7 linked regions of the Homo sapiens genome follow. The protein of the gene in region 5 purifies or fractionates together with the protein of the main gene of each other region. This does not show direct contact. Each region holds a gene or a part of one and is shown on either strand. Other genes may lie near its edges. The genes, in order: TLN2, BMP7, DRG1, CEACAM5, SOSTDC1, SERPINB6 and PIK3AP1.

Region 1 (3,500 bases), on a different chromosome or scaffold from region 5:
CAAACCAGGCACTAAATAGCAAATGACTTCCTCTCCCCTAGGCATCCAAAACCAAGGGGATAGGTAGGGTCCCAAAAACGTACCCAGGCTCGGAAGCAGAATTAAGAACAGAGGAAAAAGACATCCTCTACTTTTTTCTCCAGAAGCAAACCTTTTCTTCCCAGAGCAAGAAGGACCACAGAGACCACAAATAATAAGGGGTTTGAGACTGTTAACACAGGAGTGGGACAGGGCTGAGTTGGTCCAGGCCTGGGTCCCCGCAGTGGCATTTCTGGGGACTTTGAGGATACACACAGGAAGGACAGGCAGGACCTGACAGTCTCAAGAACAAGGAGGACAGAGGACTGAGGACTGAGACTATGATGATCAGATCCCTTCTGCCCAGCTTCCTGTGCACTTTTATGCAGGACTGTTCTAGGCCCAGATGAAATGAGCGGAGCATGTGGTGAGTCCTGCCTAACTCCACCAGGGCCACATAATGAGGGTTATAAATACACAAGATATAAAGACACACATAATAAGACAGGCCCTGTCTTATTCACAGTGTGCACTCAGCACTGGGCGTCACCCACATCAGGCCTGTGATGAAAATCTATGTAATGAAGACATGAATGAATAAGACAATGAATGAATGAACCCCAGCCTGGCAGAGCTTTGTGTCCCAAGAGGAGCCTGCCTGACCCTCTTGACCTGGCTGGAGTCTCTGCTGAGAAACAGCCCCAGGGAGCAGAAGCTTGCCAAAATGTGCCAAAAAACCAAGGAGAATGTGCCAGCGTTTTCTCGCAACAGTTCCATCCCAAGACAATCATTTTCATGTGATGATTTTTAAGTGCTTACCTGGCTATGAAATCACCAGGCTGGGAATTCTCCGTCAACTGCTAAAAGCCAGGACAGAAAGGCAACGAAAGCTTTTTTTTTTCCCCTTTTCCCCATGTCCTTTCTTCGAAGCCACCACCAGGGGGCCTGCACCTATTCACAGAGCCATACACCAGCAATATTCTTTCCGGCTCTGTTTCCTTCTATATCTGGCTTTCAAAAGGGCAATTTATACATTCCCCCTCCTTCCCACAATTTAGGAGAGTGAAGCCATTCCAAGCTGGAAACTGTAATTTTGAAATGATGCAAAAAATTGAAGATAATGAAAAACATCTGAGTTCTGATACCTGGAAATGTCAGTTGCCTTATCCAAAGGCTCCTTTGTAGGAAAAAAAGCAACGATCAAGAGGGGGTTTTCTATCAGAAACAGCTGCTCAACAGAACAGACATCACCCCCAACCCCACCTCCCATCTCTCCCACCATCAAGGGAGGTCACTTATTTACTAGAACAGTCACGAACAAAGCATGAGATGGGAAGATAATTTTCCAGTCCCCTAGTGGCTCTAGCTATTGTTTGCAGTTAAAATGTACCTTCCAGGAATAAATGAAGAAACTCAAGGGTTTGCAAGCAAACTGCTCTGACAGTGTCTAACCCTTCACACACACACACACACACACACACACACACACACACACACACACACACACCCCACTACAAGCCAAGAGGGAGGAAGGACATGTTTGGACCATGAGTACCATGAGATCTTATGTGCTGAGAGCTAAGGAGAGCTTTAAGGATGATGTAGTTCATACCCCCACTTTGCAGATGGGAAAGTTTAGACAGGCTGAGCAACCTGACCAATGCGACTGAGTTAGTCAAGTATTAAAGCTTGGAATATAATTCAGGTCTCTTGATGCCGACAATTTAAAAAACAGCCAATGATCTCCCAGGGGAGACATAAAGACACACACACACACACACACGCGCAAATTTTAAAAAACCAAGTTAAAAAAAGGAAAGCAGAATCAAAGCTATGCTTTTCAAAAATCACGAATCTGCACATTATAAAAAGGCCTCCAATTACTCTCTATCCCCTAATAGTCCTGCTTTTAATCTCTCTCCACTGTCAGCTTTCTTATACGTAATATGATGGTAAATAATGCTAAAAAAACATGCCTGCACCACCACAGAATCATGACCACCCTACTCTCTGGGTTCAGGAAAATGAAAGAGGGGCTGCTGATACGAGAACCCCCTGGGCTGTCACTGCAGTGCTCCACATACCACATTCAACCACTAGTTACTGAACTAACTTGTGGCCCTGGAGCAGAAACTATACTGTTTTATCCACTTCCCTGGGTGAAACCAACAGGAAAGAAGGACACCCAAATCATCCAAAATTCACACTCATGTTTTAATATATTTCCAAAAACAATTTATTCCCACTGCCTCCCTACTCATCTTAAAGTGGAGCCTTCCCCATGTGACAGATACAACATGTTACATTCAATCTAACACTGATGCCAGGCACAGGGTTAAGTGCTCAATAAAAGTCTGCTGAATGACTTGATGAGCACTGCTTTTCATCTTTACGCTTTTCAGTATTTTCTGATGTTTCAAGAAGCATATATACTATTTTATAATCAGAAAGATATAATGCTACTTAAAAAAAATCTGTTTAATTCATTGCATTTACAAGTCAAAATGGACCTTACGTCTAAACAAGTCTCTACTGAAAAGGCTGTATGAGAAGACAGAAGATATTTTTAGTGGGGAAAGAACATGGAAATGAGCCAGTTTTATAAAATATCAGAGTGTCCATCACTCTCAGCTCCACCTCCCATGACCTAAGGACAGCACCAATTCTTTTGCTCAGCAAAAGTGGGAGGATGTCAGGCACATCTTCAGACTGCAATGACACTGTCTAACCACACACGAAAGCACATTGTGTCCCACTCCTACCTTGCAGCTGCAGCCAGGAGATTTTTCGCATTGGGAGCTCCTGGATCTACAGAGAGAGACTTGGCAGCTAACAGCAGCTTGCTGGATGCCATCGAGATATTCTTGAGGTTCCCTATCACTTGGATCTGGTCTTCTTTTGTCTGGAAGGTCAAAAGGAGCCGGAGCTATTAGGGCCTGTCCATTTCTTGAAGGAGGCATTCAGAGAGCTAGGAGCAGCATCCTGACATGCAGGCAGGTTATCCGTATAGATCACATTAAACCCAGTTAGCCCGCAGATGCCTAACTCGTTGAGACACTGACCAGTGTCTACCCTTCTCCAAACAGATGCTCAGATCAAGATGCATGCCACAGGGAAAGAAATCCATCCCCAAGTGGGTCAGCCAAGAGCTGTGCTTTTCTCACAACTAGAGGCATTAAGCGGGGAGCAGGGTGGGAGGAGAGTGAGCGAGCTGTGAGCCAATGCACAGACCAGGCAGCGATTCCAGCATCTTGCTCAACAATGCTGGAGTTGTCAAGGAGCTGTACATCTCGGCCTGGCACAAACGACCAGCACTGTCTCGATATTCAGAGCTGACTGCATCCCTGAAGTTCCTGACTCGGGAAAGCACACATTTCTCACCCGGTTGCCATCTGAGAAACAATTCTTTGTAGATACTAGAAGAAGATACACCCTGGTTATCTCTTTTAGGGAGGTCAAAGGAGCGCAGAAAAAAAAAAAAA
Region 2 (3,500 bases), on a different chromosome or scaffold from region 5:
AGCTGGAAGAAGCTGTGCGGGCCCAGGTTGGGGACATGCAACCAGGTTGGGGACATGCAAAGAAAAAGCCTATCTCTGAACAGGCGAGCTGGAGGAAGCGTGGGGGATTTGAAGAGCATTTGCAAGCTCAGGGCTTTGTTCCTACTGGAAGATTGCAGAATTAGGGGAATTGGCTCGGTGGACCTACATGGGAAGGCAGTGCCACAGCCACCACCCAGGGCTCTTGTCTTCCTAAAGAGGTCTTGCTCCACTTCCTGCTGTGATGATGATGATACTAACGCAGGTGACCATTTATTGAGCACTTCCTGTGTGTAAGACACTGTTGTAAGTATGTCACCCCCTTTCATCCACAGCACAACTCTGGGAGGGAGATTCAATTATTATCCCCATTTTACAGAGGGAAAAACTGAGGCTCTGAGAGATGACTCTTTCCCAAGGCCACATGGGTAGCTGGTGGCAGGATTTGAATCCATGCTCTTAATAGCTGGGGAATTACATCATAGGGGCATCTTGGTTCTAGGTTGAAAAACAAAACAACCTGTCCAGAAAAATGAATAAATAATATATTTTTTAAATTTAACCATTTAACTTCTGAAGAATGGAGGCTTTGCTGCAGGAGGCACAGGAAGAACATGTAGAAACCTAAAGAAAGCAGCTCCGTCTTGCCCTCCACTGCTTCTCACCCTATTCCCTTCCTTGCTCAATGCTCCCACCTGCCATGTCCTCTCCTCTGCTGGAACGTGAGCTTCCAGAGGGCAGGGACTCGTGTCTGGTTCGTTCTGGTCGATGCCCTCAGGCATGGCATGCAGCAGGTACCTGTGCTGAGGAGGGACTCAGTCACTCAGCAGCCCAGAAGCCCCCAGGAGCAGGACCCCAGCACTAGAATGGGCACCCCCAGCCCAAGTTGCCTGTTGCCGGCAGCCTGGCAGGGAGGACGCCTGGAACGCCCATCCCTCCTCCAAACACAGTGCTCAGGCCTGCTGCCCAACCCTGCAGCCCTCAGGATCCACCCCATGGATCTCAGGCAAGACAGCAGAGGCACCACAGACCATGATGGGACCAGGTGCCCACAAAGCCAGCAGGAAGGACCAAGAGCTGCCGGAGCTGAGTGGAGAATCCAGATAACAGCCTGGACACAGAGGCTGTGGTTTCATCCTAAGCAAGAAGCTCCCTGGCTGCTGGGAGTAGATGTCGATGTCACCTCCCAGGAGAGCTGCTCAGCAGTGTCTACCAAAGCCACCCATGTGTGGGCCCTCTGACCCCACAATTCTATCTCTAGAACTTTATCTGACTGATAGACATGAACACGTATGTCAGCGAGGGTACTTGCCCTGCGGCACCATCCATCATAGAACAGAGGAGCCAGCGTGCACACGTGAAACACAGCACAACCCAAGCCGTGGAACAGTGAGGTGACTCAGAGGATGAGGGCACCCCGTGTGAACCCCTGGAAAGGGCTGCCAAGGTTCATCATCCAACGATGAAAGCCAGAGGCAGGAGTGAGTGCACTGTGGGGTTCCACAGGTGAAAACAGCAACACAGATTCCTTCGCTGATTTCAGGAGACTCAAGAAACTGGCATCAGGGACCACCTCAGCAGGGGCTGGAAGCCTTCATTTTCACTGTGGTTCCTCTTCTTTCCTTTTGATTTTATACCATGAACATGTCTTGCCTACTCAAAAACTTTTTTTTTTTTTTTTTTTTGAGAAAGAGTCTCACTCTGTCACCCAGGCTGGAGTGCGGTGGCACCATCTCGGCTCACTGCAACCTTCTCCTCCTGGGTTCAAGCAATTCTCCTGCCTCAGCCTCCCAAGTAGCTGGGATTACAGGCGCCCGCCACCATGCCTGGCTAATTTTTCTATTTTTAGTAGAGACGGGGTTTCACCGTGTTGGCCAGGCTGGTCTCAAACTCCTGACCTCAAATGATCCACCTGCCTTGGCCTTCCAAAGTGCTGGGATTACAGGCGTGAGCTACCACACCCGGCCTAAAAACAAATTTTGGAAAGAAATATCTTTCATAAGCATGGGCTCCAGCTTTGCAAACCTGGGCTCACGTCCTAATGTGGCCACATTCTCTCTGGGTAGCCTCATTCTTTGGCTTCAGGTCACTTTAGTTCTCCTCATTTTACAGATAAGCCACCACTTCTGAAGGCTACTGTGAATATGAAACAAGATATCAAGTGCAAAACACTCTGGAAACGCTCAAGAACAGTTTTGTTTTCTTGGTACTTAGATGACCATCCCCACCCCCACCCCCCACCAGCACCAAATAGCAGTGCTTGGCAAACGTAGCTGTGATGGTTCTTCTGTCCCTGTCTATGGTAACAAGTCCCCTTTCTAGCTGAAGATGCTAAGCCTGCACATCACAAGGAGGTGCCCACACCACCTTTCTTCCATCAATTTCCCTGCCCAGTGGGGACGGTAGATGTCTGACAGCCTGCGGGGTCCAGCAACCCAGCCACTGAGTAATAGGACCTTGGTCATTTCTGCCTCGGGACTGTCTGAATAGAATGCACCTGCTAAATGTCCCAGCCCTTTTTCTTAGCCTCCTTACCTCTCACAAGACCTTGAAATTAATGGATCTCGATAAATTAAAGACTTTCAACACAAACGTTTGGTTTCTGACCTAGTGATTCTTGGAAGGCTAAGAGTTCTCTGTTTTTTTTGGTTTGGGTTTTTTTCTTCCCCTAACATTTTATTTTAGATGGCCACCTTAATTGGTTGCCTGACATCGTGCACTGGGTTTCAGAGTGAGAAACGGGAGAGAGGTAGCCCTTCAAAAATGTTTCTTCCCCTTCCCCTTTTCTTCTATGTCCCTTAGCACCCAGCCAGATCTAGACTGCCTATAAAAACCCACAAGGCACCACGCATCCCTGGGCTCCCTGGCCTTCTACTATTCCTGAATTTGTTGTCGGTCATGGTTTTAAGGAAGTGACATACACCATACACCTTCTTTAGAAGGGATAATCTGGTACAGGGCCTGGCACGTGGTTGTGCCAATCTGACCCATCCTCTGGCCCTCACCACCTTCTTCCTCTGCCCCCAGAGGAAACTCAGCACCTCTCCCAGATACCCGTATAGCACCCACCTGCCCAAGTGCTCCTGGAGCACCTGATAAACGCTGATCCGGAACGTCTCATTGTCGAAGCGTTCCCGGATGTAGTCCTTGTAGATCCGGAATTCGGCTGCCGTGACAGCTTCCCCTTCTGGGATCTTGGAAAGATCAAACCGGAACTCTCGATGGTGGTAGCGTGGGTGGAAGAATTCCTTGTCATGTTCCACTGGAAGAGGAAGAGAACACACACCAACACCGACAGCTCATTAGTGTCTGGGTTTCACTCTCTGGCTCTGAGTCCAAGCATCTTGCCTAAGCTAGATGGAGGCATGCCCATTGCCAGTGACCCCAGTGACAACTGCTCCTTCCTCACCAACACACTGTAGACTGGAGGGTCACAGGCTCAGACCCCATGGTCCCCATGGTCATCCTGAACGACAAGAGCA
Region 3 (3,500 bases), on a different chromosome or scaffold from region 5:
CATATTGCAATTTCTGCAAATCCCCAACTCACAAAAATTTTTGTAGCCGTTCTTAAGCAGGCACAACCGAATCACCTGGAAAAACTTTTAAAATGTAGAGAGCTGAAACCCATCCCTGCAGATTCTGATTTGAAGGGCCAACAGATAGGGATCTGTACTTCAAAAGGCTTTACAAGTGACTCTGATGTATGTCCCCAGTAAAAAATGACTGCTCAGGCTGGGCCCAGTAACTCACACCTATAATTCCACAGCACTTTCCCAGAGGCCGAAGCAGGCAGATTGCTTGAGCTCAGGAGTTCGAGACCATCCTAGCCAACATGGTGAAACCCCGTCTGTACAAAAAATACAAAAATTAGCCGGGTATGGTGGCACACACCTGTAATCCCAGCTACTCTGGAGGCTGAGGCACAAGAATGGCTTGAACCCGACAGTCGAAGGTTGCAGTGAGCCGAGATTATGCCAGCCTGGGCGACAGAGTAAGACTCCATCTCAAAAAATAATAAAAATAAATAAATAAATTTTAAAAGATTTTAAAAAGATAAAAATGACTGCTCAACTGCCCAGGAAATGCAGTAAGGTAAAACTTCACAGAACTCAGTGTACCTAATGATGTGATTGAAAAACCAACCCCACAGCACATGTGATTCAAATTTACATCTCAGCAAAATTATAAACTATTAATTTGACTGCCCTTAAGAATCAGTCAAAACAGTTAAAACAAATATAAAATCTAAAAATACCAAGGGTCTACTGTATGGCAAATACTGAATTATACACATAAATGAACTGAAAACAGATGCAGCTTATTAAAACATCACTTAAAATATCTTTTTTTTTTTTTTTTTTTTTTTGAGAATGAGTCTCGCTCTATCGCCCAGGCTGAAGTGCAGTGGTGCAATCTTGGTTCATTGCAATGTCCGCCTCCCAGGTTCAAGCGATTCTCGCACCTCAGCCTCCTGAGCAGCTGGGATTACAGGTGCTCGCCACCATGCCCCACCAATTTTTTTTATGTATTTTTAGTAGAGACAAGTTTTCACCATGTTGGCCAGGCTGGTCTCGAACTCCTGACCTCAAGTGATCTGCTCGCGTCAGTCTCCCAAAGTGCTGGGATTATAGGCATGAGACACAGTGTCTGGCCTTGCTTTTTCATAGGGATTCTCAGCTGGGCATGGTGGCTCAAGCCTGTAATCCCAGTACTTTGGGAGGCCAAGGTGAGCGGATCATCTGAGGTCAGGAGATCAAGACCAGCTTGGCCAACATGGTGAAACCCTGTCTCTACTAAAAATACACAAAAAAATTAGTGGGGCGTAGTGGCGGGCACCTGTAATCCCAGCTCCCTCAGGAGGCTGAGGCAGGAGAATTGCTTGAACCCAGGAGGCAGAGGTTGCAGTGAGCTGAGATCACACCACTGCACTCCAGCCTGGGCAATGAAGCAAGACTCTATCTCAAAAAAAAAAAAAAAAAAAAAAGAAGGAAAAAAAGGGGAGTCTCGCTCCATCACCCAGGCTGGAGTGCGGTGGTGTGATCTCGGCTCACTGCAACCTCTGCCTCTCAGGTTCAAGTAATTCTCCTGCCTCAGCCTCCCGAGTAGCTGGGATTACAGGTGCCCGCCACCATGCCCCACTAATTTTTTTTGTGTATTTTTAGTAGAGACAGGGTTTCACCACATTGGCCAAGCTGGTCTCGATCTCCTGACCTCAGGTGATCCGCTCACCTCGGCCTCCCAAAGTGCTGGGATTATAGGCTTGAACCACCACGCCTGACCAAAACATAATTTAAATCAGATATGCTTTGCTCTAAGAATATAAGAAATTACAGAAATATACTTTGCATTAAATAAACTGCAATGAAAACTGATTTAGCAGGTGCGAGACAGTTCAACTTCTCCATTCAAGAACGTACTCAAAAAAAAAAAAAAGAAAAATGAAAATAAAAAATAAAAATAAAACAAACAAAAGAACATACTCAGGCCCAGGACAGTGGCTCATGCCTATAACCCCAGCACCTCAGGAGGCTGAGGCAGGTAGACTGCTTGTGTGCAGGAGTTCAAGACCAGCCTGGACAACATATTGAGACTCTGTCTCTACAAAAAAATAAAAAATTAGTCAGGCATGGTAGTGCATGCCTATAGTCCCAGCTACTTGGAAGGCTACGGTGGGAGGATCACTTGAACCCAGGAGGTCGAGGCTGCAGTGAGCCATGATCGTACCCGTGCCACTGCATTCAGCCTGGGTGACAGAGCGAGGGAGAATTACCATGAGGCAAAAGTACAATAATAACTGTTACAGACAAGACCCACAGATGGATGCGAAAATGAGCAGGCAAAAGTTTGAGGAAAAACAGGATTTGCATCTTCTTGAAGTATCTCCCCTAAAATATATATTAACTGTCCAAAAAAAGGTAACTTTAGAGAAACCCTACAGACACAACCATAACCAATTGATGGAGGACAATATCACCAATAAGACATACTGACAATATGAATCCCATGGTAGGAGGCACTGAGAAAGACAGTATCATTTCTGTGGTATTCTTGCCAAAAATACCTAATAAGTCTAACCAAGAGAAAACATCACACAAACCCAAATTGAGGAACATTATACAAAATAACTGATCATTACTCTTTGAGAGTGACAAGGTCACAAAAGATAAGACAGAGACTACTGCAGATGGCAAACAAATAGACAGAAATAGCTAAATGCATCATGGGATGATCCTAGATAAAAATTTTAGAAGAGAAAAAGGACACTGGTGGAAAAAACAGGTAAAAATTAAAATAAGATCTATAGTTTAGTGAATACTGTTGCAGAAATGTTCATCTATCTCTGATAATTTTTCTATGGTTATGTAAGATGTTAACAACAGGAGAAGCAGGCAAGTGATACGAGAACTCTTTGTACTATGTTTGCAACTTTTTTTTTTTTTTTCCGGGACAGGGTCTCATTCTGTCGCCCAGGCTGGAGTGCAGTAACACGATCTCGGCTCACTGCAACATCTGCCTCCCAGGTTCAAGCAATTCTCCTGCCTCAACCTCCCTAGGAGCTGGTATTAAAGATGCCTGGCTAATTTTTTATTTTTAGTAGAGACAGGGTTTCAACATGTTGGCCAAGCTCAAAAAGTTTATACAAAATGAGAGAAAAAAAGACCACGAGAGAGAATTAAAAGCTCACCAACATGAATGCAAAATTATGCAGAATGAAAGAAGCCTATGGAAAAGAAAGTGCATTTATATTTATATGTGGTTTTTGTTTATGTAAAGTTCTTAACATGTAAACTAATCTACAGTAACAAAAAGCAGGTAAGTGGCCAAGCGCAGTGGCTCACACCTGTAATCCCAACATTTTGGGAGGTCGAGGCAGGCAGATCATGAGGTCAGGAGTTCAAGACCAGCCTGGCCAACATAGTGAAACTCCGTCTCTACTAAAAATACAAAAATTAGTCGGGCATGGTGGCACATACCTATAGTCCCAGCTACTCAGGAGGCTGAGGCAGGAGAATCA
Region 4 (3,500 bases), on a different chromosome or scaffold from region 5:
CAGCTGCAGCCTGGGACTGACCGGGAGGCTCTGATTGTTTACCCACCACAGGTAGGTTGCGTCCTGAGTCTCAGGTTCACAGGTGAAGGCCACAGCATCCTTGTCCTCCACGGGTTTGGAGTTGTTGCTGGAGATGGAGGGCTTGGGCAGCTCCGCTGTGCAGATAACAGAGAGAAGATTGCCCTGTGTGGCACCTTTGATTCCTCACAGGCATCTTTCAATCAGAGTTGGCACCTTCCACCTCTCAGCCCACCTGAGCCCTTAAAAACCCACGGTGGGTGCATGTGTCACAAGACAGATGCACGATGATCTGAGATCTCAGAGACTGCGAGGCTGCCTGCTCGGTGTGGGGGAAGCACAGACTTTCTCAAGTGTGAATTAAGCAGCAGCATTGGGCTGTGAACAGACACAGGACTGGGGGGGAGGTCACAGCTCCTGGTGCCTCTCCTGGTCCCTCCCTGACCAGTTGACTACTTGGCCCACTGTAGGGTCCTCACCTGGAACATTCAAGTGCTGGGTCCCTTCCACCTTCAGTCCTACTTTGTTTCCCTAGGTATATTTTTTCTGTGGTTTCCCTTTGCAAGGACATCCTAGAAATGGATAGTGATGGGTCTTCCCATTGTCCTTAAACCCTGTACATATTGTGCAGCCTGGCCTGGGACTGGATGTTTCAGTAGAAATAACACAGGGGACACCAGAGGCAAGCCTGGAGGTCAGCTCAGTCGTTAGGCAGTGGAGGCACAAGGTGGGGCAGTTTTTCCCAGGTGTTTGATGATGACTGACTTGAGCCAGAGACCCCTAAAGATAGAGTGGAGTCCAGGGAATGATCTAGAACTTCAGGTGACAGGCAGGAGCTGCCCGGATTTAACAGCAGAACCATATGTATGTTCTTTGTCTTTGGTCTTTGTTTGTTTGTTTGTTTTTTGAGATGGAGTCTTGCTGTGTTGGCCAGGCACGATCTCGGCTCATGGCAACCTCTGCCTCCCGGGTTCAAGCGATTCTCCTGTCTCAGCCTCCCGAGTAGCTGGGACTACAGGCGCCCACCACCACACCCAGCTAAATTTTGTATTTTTAGTAGAGATGGGGTTTCACCATATTGGTCAGGCTGGTCTTGAACTTCTGACCTCAGGTGTTCTGCCCACCTTGGCCTCCCAAAGTGCTGGGATTACAAGCATGAGCCACTGCACCCGGCCTGTCTTTGGTCTTTAATGTCCCTTCTCCCCTTGCAGAGGGCAGGCGAGGATGCTGTGGATCTCTCCATAAATACATGTGGACATTTGCAAATGCAGAACTGACTGGTGGAAAAGGGGGAGCATGAACTGCTGGAAATCTGGCCCTCAAGGACCATGTGTGTTTGACAGTTATGAGACAGAACTTTGAGAAGAAGTTTTGCAATTATTTTCTCCCATTGGACATTATGCTAAATGAAATAAGCCACTCACAGGGCAGATACTGTAGGATTCCACTTATATGAAGTCCCTAGAGTAGTCACACTTGTGGAATCAGAGAGTAGAATGGTGGTTGTCAAAGCCTGGGAACTGGGGGAATGGAGAGTTGTTCATGGGTCTGCAGTTTCAGTTATGCAGGATGAGGAGGTTCTAGGGATCTGCTGTTCAGCTTGGTGCCTATAGTTCATACAGATTGAGTATGTCTTATGTGTAAGGCTTAGGACTAAAAGTGTTTTGGATTTCTGACTGTTTTTGAGTTTTGAATATTTGCAATATACTTACCAGTTTAGCACCCCAAATCTGAAAATACGGAATCCAAAGTGCTCCAGTGAGCCTTTCTTTTTTCTTTTCTTTTCTTTCTTTTTCTTTTTTTTGAGATGGAGTCTCGCTCTGTTGCCAGGCTGGAGTGCAGTGGCACGATCTCAGCTCACTGCAACCTCCACCTCCCGGGTTCAAGCGATTCTCCTGCCTCAGCCTCCAAAGTAGCTGAGACTGTAGGTGCATGCCACCACGCCCAGCTAATTTTTGTATTTTTAGTAGAGACGGGGTTTCACCATGTTGGCCAGGATGGTCTTGATCTCTTGACTTTGTGATCTTCCCGCCTTGGCCTCCCGAAGTGCTGGGATTACAGGCATGAGCCACCGTGCCCGGCCTTCAGTGAGCATTTCTTTTGAGAATCATGTCAGTGGTCAAAAAATGTTGGATTTTGGAGCATTTCAGATTTTGGATTTTAGGATTTGGGATACTCAATCTGTAGTACTATAATTTGCCCTTAAAAATTTGTCAGGAGTTTAGATCTCATGTTATTTTCTGACTATAGTTAAAAAAGTGAAAGACATTTGGGGGAAACATTAAATTTTTTCCATAAGTGGAAATTCTTATCAATGGCCTAAAGATCTAAGATCAATTGCTGGAAGTAGTACTTCTTTTAATATTATGCTAAGGTTTAGGTCTGCTCTGAATTCCAAAGTGATCACATTATGCTCAAAGGAAGATGCTGAAAGTGGTTTGAAATCAGTGACTCCCTGAACAGAGAGAGGGATGTGAGACCTGTTAAGAGGACAGAACCGGTCAGAGAGGAACTCTTAGGTGTGTCAATTACATAAAGGGAGAAATGATGCCAAGTTAGGAGAAGCAATGTGTGTGATGTTAGTAAATTTAGAAAGCGCTCCCTGCCCCTAGTTCCTGTGCAGAGTTAGGCAAAAAGAGGAGAAGCCTCAAAACAGGCATGTGAAAGGTTTTCTTCCTCTCCTATCAACCTCAGAAAACACAACTAGAGTTTAAGTTTTTGTAACTGGGTAGAGTCTAAGTGAGACGCCAGTGGCTGGTTCACTTCTCAGTCCAAGGGACTCCACCTTATGACAATGGCATCATCATGAGGACACAGGTGTATGTGGAATGGGCAGCAAACCTATCAGACAGCACCTGCCTGGCCAGCTCCACCTGGGGGAGGTCCCAGGATCCACTGGAGGATGTGAGCCCCACACCAGGATGAAGATGGAGTGGGTAGTGAAGTGAGTGAAATAAGCATGCGGGCTTTGGGGACTGCAGACCTGTCCTTCTGCCTCTGACCCCCTGGTGAGTCAGTGTAGGGAGTGGATGGAGGAGTCGCTCATTCCCGTCCTGCTGCCTGTTCCGTGTGTTGGCCTCATGGAAGTAAAGAGCCCTGGGCAGGAACACAGCGGAAGCTCATTCTCCTGGTGACCTGTTGACATTGGCTTGTGATGGAGCCTGGCAGGGGCTCCATCTGTGCCTTCCCTATTGCCTGTGATTTCTGTGCCTTCCCTATTGCCTGGGAAGTGGGCCAGGACACAGTGTGAGCGGCAAGAAAACAGGACAGCCAGCCTTGTTCAAGGGAGTGTCTGGGGAAGGCCTAAGAGTGGAGGAAGATGTTCAGGGATGGGCATCTCAGCTGGAATGAAGAGGGAGGAAGACGAAGAACATGGAGGAATAGAAGAAAGTCAGAAATGCCCATGGCAATGAGCCATGCGGGGTATAGTGACCTCGGAGACCCCAGGACTAGGAGTCCCTTGGCTGTCCCGACCAGGACCA
Region 5 (4,166 bases):
TTTATAGTGAGATAGATGAATAGATAATTAGTGGTTAAATTGGGGGTGATTTTACCCTGTAGGGGTCATTTGGCAATGTTTGGAGTTATTTTTGTTACCAACTAGGGGGGTGCTACTGGCGTCTAGTCGTTAGAAGCCAGGGATGCTGATAAACACACAGGATGGTCCCCCAATAATAAAGAACTGTCTCTTCCAAAATGCCAGTAGCGCTGCTATGGAGAAATTCAGGTAGGCAGACATATAGGCAAATGGCAGTTACAAGGGACAAAAGCTTATACAGAAAAGAGATACAAAATTAGGTGATTTAGGTAACCACACAAAGGACAAAAATGGATTTATAATTGAAAAGATGATTCAGAATAGTTATTCCAATTGAGATGTCCCATGATGAAATAGAATTTTATGATTGTTTTAAAGGGATCATCAGTGGCCTATAATTAATTAATGGAACACGTGTTCTGGGTGCCGGTAAAGTAATTCAGAAAAATAGGTTTCTTACTTGGGCAGCAGAGTCAAAGGAAGTAATGAGCAAAATATTTAGTAAATACGAGTAGAATCTGTGTTCTGAAAAAATCTAGAAAAAATTATTTTGAATCCGCTAAAAAGTCTGTCACAAATGGCTTTATGTAAAACAATGCTATGGATATTAATGCTTGTGACACATTTTTAAGACAAAAATGAGTATTACTTACTTTAATGTAGACAGAACTATGCTCATTATTCTCCACACAAAACCCCTGGCAATAATTTACCTAGCAGCACAGTAGTTCTTGTAGATCAAAGCTGCATTATTTAAGCATGTCCAGGGGGCAGGTTTTAGCTCTGTGCCTTTTACTTTAAGGAAAAAAAAATATTGGTTTGCTTCTTGAGAGAAAGCAATGTTTAGCTAACTAGGTGCTTCATGCAAGTCCTGCAATATTTAAACTCACATGAATTCCTCCTGTTATCTGGGAAGAACTCCCTTTCTGACCCAAATACTCTAAAATCTGAGGAAAGTACAGAACAACTGTGGGAAAGCCAGTCTCTTCAAATGAACAGCGATGTATTTTCGTTTAAATTAAACCCGAATGTTAACTAGATTCAGGAAAGGAAATGGCAGAGGAGAGTCTGTCGTTGATATAGAATACGCCTGCCTGCGTCGGCTCACAGACAAGTGATGAAGTCCAACTCTGAAATTTCAGGCAATTTGTATACCAAGCTCCTCCTTTTCTGCAGTCTTCTTTTCCATTGGTAAAATTCTTTTGCAGGGTCATGTAGGGATCCCACCCCTTCTCTGTGTTTTCACTCTGAAGCTCTACACAACTTTACACCTGAATGAACGCCAAACCTCTATGGATATATAAAGGGAAGCTTGAGGAGGAATTTCACAGTTACAGTGCAGAAGCAGAAGCAAAAGAATTAACCAGCTCTTCAGTCAAGCAAATCCTCTACTCACCATGCTTCCTCCTGCCATTCATTTCTATCTCCTTCCCCTTGCATGCATCCTAATGAAAAGCTGTTTGGCTTTTAAAAATGATGCCACAGAAATCCTTTATTCACATGTGGTTAAACCTGTTCCAGCACACCCCAGCAGCAACAGCACGTTGAATCAAGCCAGAAATGGAGGCAGGCATTTCAGTAACACTGGACTGGATCGGAACAGTAAGTGTGTTTTACTTGTACAGTTTTTTTTTTTCTTTTCTGGTAGCATTAGCTCACATTCCTGTAGAATTGTTTTATTGGTAACTAACCTGAACCGTATATATGTTGTGAAACAATTTGGGAGTAATCTGCTGCATGTGCAGGTTGGCATTCTTCCCTAGGTAGTGATTTTAAAGTTAACCTAACTAAAACAGTGGTTTAATAGTGCAAGCACAGACTGAAGTTTTATCAAACATCCACAAAGAAAACATTTCCAGGAATTAAACTATTGTTTTGTCAAAATCATGCAAAATGACCATTTTAAAAAGTATTGTTTTAGATAGCTCAAGTTCCGGTTGTTTTGTCAATTTATTTCAGGGCATATGCAATTTTGGTAAAGTGTATAAACGTAACTAATATATATTATTAGTTACCATCCACAAATAAATATAGGGAATCACAAGGGAAAAAAGGAAGCTTCCAGGAGAAAAAATTTGTTTACATTGGATTTCTAAAATATGTCTAGTGAGATAGTCAAAAGTTTTGATGATGCTCAATGTAAAAGAGGGATAAACTAAAAATGTTGGAGAATCACATTTTTCTAAAATAATTCCTTGTTGTCCCATTCAAAATTTAGATAATTGTGTATTTCTGTGACAGACTGGGGACATTTTTGTAACTTAAGAGATGTAAAACAACAGCTTAGTTGACACACTAATTGACCACTGGTTAGGGGGATTCAAATTACCCCTAACTTTTGTTTCTATCTTTTCCTTTAGAAGAGGCCATATGCTAATAATCAGGTTTTAAGAGAGAGAGAGAGAGAGAGAGAAACACTGCGCAGGAAATCTTACACAAATCTTTTGCCTCTCCTTCTTCACTCCATTCAACTACGAAAAGTAGTTTTGACTTTTGAAAAGTCAAAGCAAATTTGACTGTTAATGTCTAAGAAAGCTAGGATGTTTTAACTTTCACGAAGCTGGTTGCTTTTAAGTACACAGGACATATCTGATTATTATTAGATTACTGAGCAATGTGGTGGGTATTCGTTGTCAATGAACTGTCACTGCAAAAATGCCAAATCTGTATATACACAGGAACAGAAAGCTTGACGAGACAAAATTATTTCTGGCTATTTCCAGGTGCATTCCTGAGGCAGCTGCAGGAAGGTGAGCTGGAGGCAGAATCAGGCACGCTGAGCACACTGTCCAACCAAACAATTTACGCTTTACATTTTAATCCCACAATTCTAGATTTCTATGCATGCATGTCTATATACATAAGTTTTTCCACAACTATCACGTTCCCCTTAAGCTATATCTCTTACCTCAGAAGTACTAGCATACAGAGATGAAGTGAAACTCCTGATTCAGTTCTACTTCGACGTATCTTTCAGTACTTTTTGTGGAACCACTTCAGTGTCCCTTATCATTTTTATTTGTAAAATGTCAGCAGCCTGTACTTTTAAACATCCTTTTTTTTTTTCCTGGTTGGCAAGCCTTGATTTCTTTTCAAGCTTGTTATAGGCAATTCTCCTCAAGTTTAGATAACAAAGCAAGGGTAAGGAAAACTTAAAATATTTAAAGATTAATTTTTGCTTTAATTACATAAGGCATGTAACAAGAAACAGCCAATTAGAGAACATACCTATCAAATCCAAATAACTAAAACAAAAAGTTTGCCATGACCAATATTCAGGAAATGAACACCGTGGTTCCTTTTGCAGTTGTAAATCAGACATGTTAGGCATTTTTCTGCCATAAAATTCATGGAAATGTAGCCAAGTTGTTATGGCAACCATACGTTCCTGATTTAGGGGCTTTTATATTCTTTGAGTCTTGAGTTGTAGTGGCATTTTACATTTCAAACATGTTACTGTTTGTATTTTTTAAAAGATAGTTTGGGAATTTATGTTTAAAACATAGTTATTAAGTTTGATATGCAAAATGTCAGATGTTGTACACATGTATGTCTGAGTCTCTGCAGCTAAAGTCTATAATTGAAATAAAATATTACCGAGAGCATATGCATTATACACAATATTTAAATGGCTATCACATTTTTTCTCAACAGATTTTTAAAAAGCCTAATTAAAAACACTTGCAGACATTAGCCAATATGACCCTTGAGAAAGAGAATATTAAAGTATACTCTTAACTCATTGAATAATGAATATTTACACATAAATGGAAGAGCTGCTAACCCCTTATTGGAGAGTCAGACTAAGGAAATTGGATTTTCAAACACTCTAATAAGCAATTAGCTAATGTTATATATAAAAACAATCAGGCCTACATTTTTTTTCCCAAAAAAGTTATAGCCATGTAAACTGATGATTTTCATGAAAGTGTCCCTATACTATCCAGACAGATTTTTTTCACTGTGAAAATAAAGTAGGTGCTCACTTTCTATTTGGCAATTTGCTATCATTTGCCTATTATTTTTGTCATTGCAGATCACTTTTTAAAAGGTCTTCATTTGCATTTTTTCTCTGATGCACATTCTTTTTTGTTTCCTGCAGCTCGGGTTCAAGTGGGTTGCCGGGA
Region 6 (3,500 bases), on a different chromosome or scaffold from region 5:
GATGGAACTGCATTTGCAGAGAGGGCCTTTACAGGGGTGATTAAGGTAACATAAGGCCATTAGGTTGGGCTTTAATCCAATAGGACTCATGTCCTTATAAAAAGAGGAGATGAGGACACAGACACACACAGAGAGATGACCATGTGAGGACACAGGGAGAAAACAGTGTCTACAAGCCGAGGAGAAAGGCTGCAGGAGAAACCAACCCTGCCTACACCTGGATCTCAGGCTCCCAGGGAACCACCAGGTCCAGAGGGCAGACCACAGCAGTCACGGGTGGCCCCGACCAGCTACATCTGTGGTGTGCGCACCCTCTCTCAACCCCTCTCAGGCGCGGAGATGCCTCTGCCTTTGGCAGTGGGGCCTTGGCAAGCAGGACACAGGCGGGGACGTGATGGGTACTTGTTTCAAGCCTGTCTTCTGCGAGCACTTCCTCTCAGAACCCAGCCGCCAGGCCTACGGAAGCCCAGGCAACGCTGCTGAAGGAAGCATGTGGAAGGCCCCAGCGGAGAAGGCCACGGAGAAGACGCCCAGCGCCCCGCTGAGCCCCCGCTGACGCAGCCCACAAGGGACCCACCCAGTGCCAAGTGGTGCAGAAGCACCACTCAATCCACCCAGATTCAACAACCAGGAAAGCTGCTAAGCTGGGAGAGCTGGTTACACAACAACAAATAACCAGAACGCTACTGAAAACATGTTTAGCTGACAAATGCCATTCTAAGAAGGCTTTACGCGTAAATGAGAAAATAAAGACTCCTAACAACCAACAAGCAGATGACAGTACCCAAAGATCATCACAGGACTCAACCTGAACCTTGTGACTTTACAACCATCTACAAACTCACGAACAAGCTAAGCCATGTGATGATGAAATCATTCATTCCTCTGAATCGGGCGCCCCCTCTCCACCCCAGGGGGTCAGTCAGGGTGTTGTCCCCAGGGTGCTCCAGCATGGGTGGCATGCCCTTCCCTGTAAACTCGCCACCCACACCCTGCAATACTGCACAGTCATCCGTCTCGAGCGATCCCTTTGGGATTTGGAATAAGGAGGACCAGCTAACTTGACAGTTAATAGCACCATGGCTGCCCTGAAGCTGTACCTGGGCCATCTGTGCAGCGGTGTTTCCCTTTGCCCCCATGTAGACCATGGCCAGGGCACAGGACATGCTCATGGGTGAGAAAAACACATTCTTCGAGTTGTCTTTACCCAGCGTTTTCAAAAGGTTTAAGGCAAAGGTGCCATTTGCTTCTGCGAGAACATCCATGATGGCAGACCTGGAACAAGATTTAAAATCAGTATCACTTAAGCACAGCTTCCACGCGACTGCATCTCACGCGCCTTACCGACAGTCACCGCCGATGCTGTGGTTCAGTGGGCAAGCAGAAACACACACAGAACTCTGGCTGTTTCTTTTTAGGACCCTCCACATTATTTTGTGTGTTTCTAATGTTAAGTGTGGAAAATGAAAGAGTTCTATGTGAAACGCCGCCCTGTTTTGTGAGGACTCCTCCCTGCACGCCTGCCCGCACGTGGAGAAAGTGGGAAGGAGGCACCCTTTCCTGGAGTCTCTTCCTTGGGGTGGAATTACAGAAGGGGCACTGGCTTTTGCTTCTATGTTTGTATTCTTTGGTGTGTTTTGCGGGCTTAAATGTACTGTTTTAATTTGAAAAATATTCAAAATGATACATTCACTGACAGTTACACAAGAAAAGATGGCCAAATGTTTTTATAATGAGAGAGAGAATCCCATTTCTGGGTAGCAAGAGCCTTAAAAAAGGATCAATCAAGCCACATACAAAGATGCGTGAAAGCCTTTCAAATGCCTCCTGACCCTTGGATCTCCTTCTAGGAAATCCCTGCAGGTGGCAAAGCCCCAATTTTGGACCACGCTTGGGGACATCCTGCTGCAACAAGCCAGGCCTTCCTGCGCCTGAACTCACAGCACACTCAGGACACCACCTTGCCTCATGGGCTGTGGGTGCATGCCCATCTCCACCTTCACAGACAGGCTCAGGGGTAGGGTCAGGCTGCACATCTCTCTAGCCCTGCCGTGCAGTGGGTGTGGCAGCCCCAGCAGGGTCCAGAGCAGGAATGCAGCTGGATAGTCGGGAGGGGGGAGCTGGGGTATCTTCAGGCAAGTCGGAATCACAGAATCACATGTTAAAGTCCACCAAGCCCTTAGAGAGACCTACCATCAATGCCCCACTGCACTACAGGGAAGGTGAAGTTGACGGAAGTGAAGCTAAGAAGTAGCTGGGCTTGAAACGCAGGGCGGATGCGCTTTCTGAGCTGCTGCTCAAGAAGAAGAATCTGCAGAATCAGGTGAGAGGACAAGGGGCAGCTAAGGGCCCCACAGGCAGTCAGGCTGGGAAGGAGGGGATGCAGGAATGCAGGGATGCGGGGCCTGCCTGCTCTGACACAGTTCTCAGATGTTTACCAAATGAATATGTCCCAGTCAGAGAATGCCAGCATTCTAAGACAGTCCCAGTGACTCACTTGAGCAGTGAGTGGGAACCCACGGAACAAGGAAGGGGAGAAGCTGGAGCAGACATTTCCTGGAGCAGATGGGAGAGGGAAGGAGGTGCCTACTGGAGGCCCTGTGAGGAGATGCTGAATTAAGCGGCTCTCCACTGTGCATGCCTTTACATTTGGAGCTGGGGTTGGCTGAGCAAGTGCTCCAAAGATACCTGGGTCATAATCCCTGGGACCTGTGAATGCCCCTTACATGGCAAAAGGGACTGTGCAGCACGATTAGATTCAGGCTCTTGAGATGGGAGATTATCCTGGATTGTTCCAGTTGACCCTAAATGTAATCACAGGTATCCTTCTAAGAGGGAGGGAGGGGGAGATCTCACGGGAAAAAGCAATGCAAAGAATAAAGCAAAATGCCACTCCACTGGCCTTGAAGATGAAGGGCCTCAAGCCAAGAAACGCAAGGACCACAGCTGCAGTAGCTGGAAAGGCAAGGAGGATCCTCTGGAGGAGCCTGGCCCTGCGGAACCCATTTCCAACCTCCAACCTCAGAACTCTGAGAAAATAAACATGTGCAGTTTAGCCACGAATCCATGGTCATTTGTTACAGCAGCCACGGGAAACCAAGACAATAACTCATACACCTGATAAAGCTTGTTTGCTGTGCTTGTTTAAATATTTTGTTTTCAAACTCTTCTTTATTCATTACACAGAATACTTGGGGCACTGGGCACTCCTGGCTTGCCAAGCCTTTCCAAACATATTTTAAGATTACTAATTTCTAATAAAAGGACAATAGAAAGTACATATTACTAAAATTCTTCTGAATATAAGGGAGTCTTTGATGATACATAAATAAATCCAGGATTCCGCAGAGCCCTGGGAACACCAGTATAAACAAAAGTAGCCATTACACGGAACTGAAGCAAAATTGGGCCTATTTTTGGTTCTTTGGATTCTAGATCACAAGAACTGCCCGCTTATCAACTTGAAGAGAAACAATTGGTAAAACAGGGAAACTTCTAGG
Region 7 (3,500 bases), on a different chromosome or scaffold from region 5:
CCTAAATTTGAACAACTTCTGGGGTGGGAAGCTCCTGATATGATTGACCACATCTCTCCTTATCCTGGTCACCTTCCCTATCTCTCATCCCTCTTCAAATATGGTGTTCAGATTCAAACATGGGGCTCCAGGATGGATGAATGGGGTGCCAGAGTCACCTATAGGCTGAAGAAATGGTCTGGGCTGGGTGGTTTGAGAAGCTTTCTGGCACTTCCTGTCTGTACTTCTCTCCAGTGAGTTTTTTTTTTTTTTTTTTTGAGACGGAGTCTCACTCTGTCACCCAGGCTGGAGTGCAGTGACACGATCTTGGCTCACTGCAAACTCTGCCTCCCAGGTTGAAGTGATTCTCGTGCCTCAGCCTCCCGAGTAGCTGGGATTACAGGTGCCCACCACCATACTCAGCTAATTTTTGTATTTTTAGTAGAGACAGGGTTTCACCATGCCAGGCTGGTCTTGAACTCCTGGCCTCAAGTGATCTGCCCTCCTTAGCCTCCCAAAGTGCTGGGATTACAGGTGTGAGCCACCACGCTCGGCCCTCCATTGGGCTCTGAATCCTGCAAAGGCACCTCTCTTTCAGCCCCAGCTTTTCACCCCATGGACTCCCTGCTGCTACAGCCTCCCCTTCCTCTGCTGTGATCCATTTCTTTCTCCTTCTGTAGCCAAACCTGTTCTTGACGTTTTACGAGGACAAAGAAAGACCCTTCCTCATTTCTTTCTAGGGCTTGTAGACTCCTTGTTAGCTCATGTGTTTCATTTCTCTTAATAAATGAACAAGCAAAAAAAAAGAGAGATGTGATTGAGGATAAGTGGAAAAGCTACTTATGGTTAAAGGAAGAGGATTATTGCTGAAGAAAGGAGTTTCCCCCATATAAGGCAGAGTTGCTGACAAAGCATTTAGTCCTATATTGTTACCCAGCACATCAGAAAGGGACTGGAACTTTCACTTTGGACTTTTTAAAAACTTCCCCTTCTTTCAGTTTCCCAGCACAGCAATATTCGGGAAGGTGATAGATTTCATTGTCCTCATTTACATCAAGGCAAATTTGCCTAGACTTAGTAATTGGTCTAAGTCACACCACAGGTTAGTGACCAAATAGGTTGTAATGTTAACTAGTCTGAGGCAGTAATTAATTTCTCCTCAAATACTTTCACTCAAAGGGAATTGAATTTAACACTAGAACCCCAGGAGTGAGACATTGTGCATTTATTTATTTATTTATTTATTTATTTAATGAGACAGGGTCTCACTCTGTCATCCAGGCTGGAGGGCAGTGGTACGACCTGGGCTCACTGCAACCTCTGCCTCCCAGGTTCAAACAATTCTCATGGCTCAGCCTCCTGAGTAGCTGGGACTACAGGCGCATGCCACCACGCCTGGCTAATTTTTGTATTTTTTTGTAGAGTTGGAGTTTCACTATGTTGGCCAGGCTGGCCTCGAACTCCTGGCGTCAAGTGATCCGCCTGCATTGGCCTCCCAAAGTGCTGGTATTACAGATGTGAGCCACTGTTCCTGGCCAGGAATGAGACATTTTGAATAGCTGTTCTGTTTGTTTATTTGTTTGTTTTTTAAATATAGGAGATTTAAGTGCTCTTTATTTCAATTGTACTTTTTTTTTTTTTTCTTTGAAATGGAGTCTCGCTCTGTTGCCCAGGCTGGAGTGCAGTGGCATGATCTCAGCTCACTGCAAGCTCCGCCTCCCGGGTTCATGCCATTCTCCTGCCTCAGCCTCCTGAGTAGCTGGGACTACAGGTGCCCGCCACAATTCCCGGCTAATTTTTTGTATTTTTAGTAGAGACGGGTTTTCACCATGTTAGCCAGGATGGTCTCGATCTCCTGACCTCGTGATCCACCCGCCTTGGCCTCCCAGAGTGCTAGGATTACAGGCATGAGCCACCGCGCCCAGCCTCAATGATACTTTTAAATAAAATTTTATTTTAGAACAATTTTAGATTTCCAGAAATACTACAAAGATAGTACAGAGAGTTCTCATATAGACCACATCCAGTTTCACCTATTATTGACATCTTACATTAGTGTGGTTTTTGTGACAATTAGTTAACTGATACTGATAAATTATTAATAACTAAAAGTTCAGGCTTTCCTCAGATTTCCTTAGTTTTTATGTAATGTCCTTCTTCTGTTCCAGGAGCCCATCTCAGGTACTACGTTATATTTGGTAGTCATGTCTCCCTAGGCCCTTCAAGGCTGTGATTTTCTCTGATTTTCCTTGTTTTTGATGGCTTTGACAGTCTTGAGGAGTACTGGTCAGTTATTTTGTAGAATAGCCCTCAGTCGGGATTTGTATGATATTTTTTCCCATAATTAGACCAGGGTGCTGGGTTTCAGGGAGGAAGACCACAGAGGTAAAGTGCCAGTCTCGGCCCATGGTATTCAGGGCACACACTCTCAACATGATTTGTGACTGTCAATGCTGACCTTGATCACTGGGTTTCTCTATTGTAAATTTACTCTTTTTTTTTTCTCCCTTTCCACACTGTGCTCTTTGGAAAGAACTCACTTGACACAGCCAAACACTAAGTTCTCTGTATAAGGAGTTACACTCTACCTCCTTGAGGGTGGAGTTATCTATCTACATAAATTATTCAGAATTGTTATGCATGGGAGATTTGTCTTTTTTCCCCAGTGTATTTATTCAATTATTTATTTTGTATCAGTATGGACTCCTGTATATTTCTTTTATGCTTTGGGTTATAATTCAATATTATTTTATTTATTTTGTTGCTCAAATGGTTCCAGCTTTTGCCACTGGGCGCTTTGAGTTGACTCGTGTTCCTTTGACATATGCCTGTCATTGAATTTTTGTTTGAGCATTACTTTCTGGCACTACAAGATGCTCCAGGCTCATATTGAATATTTCCTGCCCCAGGAAGTATTTAATCCTAGACTCATTCCTAGAATCCATCATTTCACTAAGGAATCCTGGATCCTTTTATTGGAGAATGGTATGAGAAACCCATGGCACTAGATGTATTTTATTAACTGTATTTTCTAAACTATATTCTGTATTTCCTTGACTTTTTAAATTGGGTGCAACTTAGAGATTAAGAGCATGGACTTTGGAGTCAGATCCCTGCTCTGGCACTGACTAACAATGTGCACTTGGGCAGCAGCAGCAGTAAATCTTCAACGAGTTTTAATGTCTGTGTCTGTAAAATGGGGCTTTTTGATAACATATACTTTGTGGATTGTTCTGAGGATTAAATGAGAGAATGTACATGAGATGCTTAGCAGAGTGACTAACACATGATCAGTGCTCAGGAAACAGAGCTGAATCACGATTTAAACTTTCCTTGATGACTTGGAGTCTTTTTTTTTTTTGAGACGGAGTTTCGCTGTTATTACCCAGGCTGGAGTGCAATGGCACGATCTCAGCTCACTGCAACCTCCGCCTCCCGGGTTCAAGTGATTCTTCTGTCTCAGCCTCCCGAATAGCTGGAATTACAGACGCATGCCACCATGCCCGGCTAATTTTTGTATT

Evidence for each region.
Region 1: the proteins of SOSTDC1 (region 5) and TLN2 purify together in Homo sapiens (affinity purification with mass spectrometry, with the first as the bait; one study listed by BioGRID). This does not show direct contact.
Region 2: the proteins of SOSTDC1 (region 5) and BMP7 purify together in Homo sapiens (affinity purification with western blotting, with the first as the bait; one study listed by BioGRID). This does not show direct contact.
Region 3: the proteins of SOSTDC1 (region 5) and DRG1 purify together in Homo sapiens (affinity purification with mass spectrometry, with the first as the bait; one study listed by BioGRID). This does not show direct contact.
Region 4: the proteins of SOSTDC1 (region 5) and CEACAM5 purify together in Homo sapiens (affinity purification with western blotting; one study listed by BioGRID). This does not show direct contact.
Region 6: the proteins of SOSTDC1 (region 5) and SERPINB6 purify together in Homo sapiens (affinity purification with mass spectrometry, with the first as the bait; one study listed by BioGRID). This does not show direct contact.
Region 7: the proteins of SOSTDC1 (region 5) and PIK3AP1 purify together in Homo sapiens (affinity purification with mass spectrometry, with the first as the bait; one study listed by BioGRID). This does not show direct contact.

What each region holds. Positions count from the first base shown.
Region 1 is NC_000015.10:62,740,050-62,743,549, reverse strand, and holds part of TLN2 (talin-2), read right to left. Parts: intron 2,921-3,500; coding exon 2,781-2,920; intron 1-2,780. UniProt on the Homo sapiens protein: As a major component of focal adhesion plaques that links integrin to the actin cytoskeleton, may play an important role in cell adhesion. Recruits PIP5K1C to focal adhesion plaques and strongly activates its kinase activity.
Region 2 is NC_000020.11:57,225,142-57,228,641, forward strand, and holds part of BMP7 (bone morphogenetic protein 7 preproprotein), read right to left. Parts: intron 3,281-3,500; coding exon 3,088-3,280; intron 1-3,087. UniProt on the Homo sapiens protein: Growth factor of the TGF-beta superfamily that plays important role in various biological processes, including embryogenesis, hematopoiesis, neurogenesis and skeletal morphogenesis.
Region 3 is NC_000022.11:31,406,104-31,409,603, reverse strand, and holds part of DRG1 (developmentally-regulated GTP-binding protein 1), read right to left. Parts: intron 1-3,500. UniProt on the Homo sapiens protein: Catalyzes the conversion of GTP to GDP through hydrolysis of the gamma-phosphate bond in GTP. Appears to have an intrinsic GTPase activity that is stimulated by ZC3H15/DFRP1 binding likely by increasing the affinity for the potassium ions.
Region 4 is NC_000019.10:41,711,626-41,715,125, reverse strand, and holds part of CEACAM5 (cell adhesion molecule CEACAM5 isoform 1 preproprotein), read right to left. Parts: intron 156-3,500; coding exon 1-155. UniProt on the Homo sapiens protein: Cell surface glycoprotein that plays a role in cell adhesion, intracellular signaling and tumor progression. Mediates homophilic and heterophilic cell adhesion with other carcinoembryonic antigen-related cell adhesion molecules, such as CEACAM6.
Region 5 is NC_000007.14:16,462,939-16,467,104, reverse strand, and holds the start of SOSTDC1 (sclerostin domain-containing protein 1 precursor), read left to right. Parts: upstream 1-1,366; 5' UTR 1,367-1,436; coding exon 1,437-1,641; intron 1,642-4,141; coding exon 4,142-4,166. UniProt on the Homo sapiens protein: May be involved in the onset of endometrial receptivity for implantation/sensitization for the decidual cell reaction Enhances Wnt signaling and inhibits TGF-beta signaling. Directly antagonizes activity of BMP2, BMP4, BMP6 and BMP7 in a dose-dependent manner.
Region 6 is NC_000006.12:2,958,068-2,961,567, forward strand, and holds part of SERPINB6 (serpin B6), read right to left. Parts: exon of another isoform or gene 2,903-3,500; intron 1,276-2,902; coding exon of another isoform or gene 1,266-1,275; coding exon 1,101-1,265; intron 1-1,100.
Region 7 is NC_000010.11:96,714,015-96,717,514, reverse strand, and holds part of PIK3AP1 (phosphoinositide 3-kinase adapter protein 1), read left to right. Parts: intron 1-3,500. UniProt on the Homo sapiens protein: Signaling adapter that contributes to B-cell development by linking B-cell receptor (BCR) signaling to the phosphoinositide 3-kinase (PI3K)-Akt signaling pathway.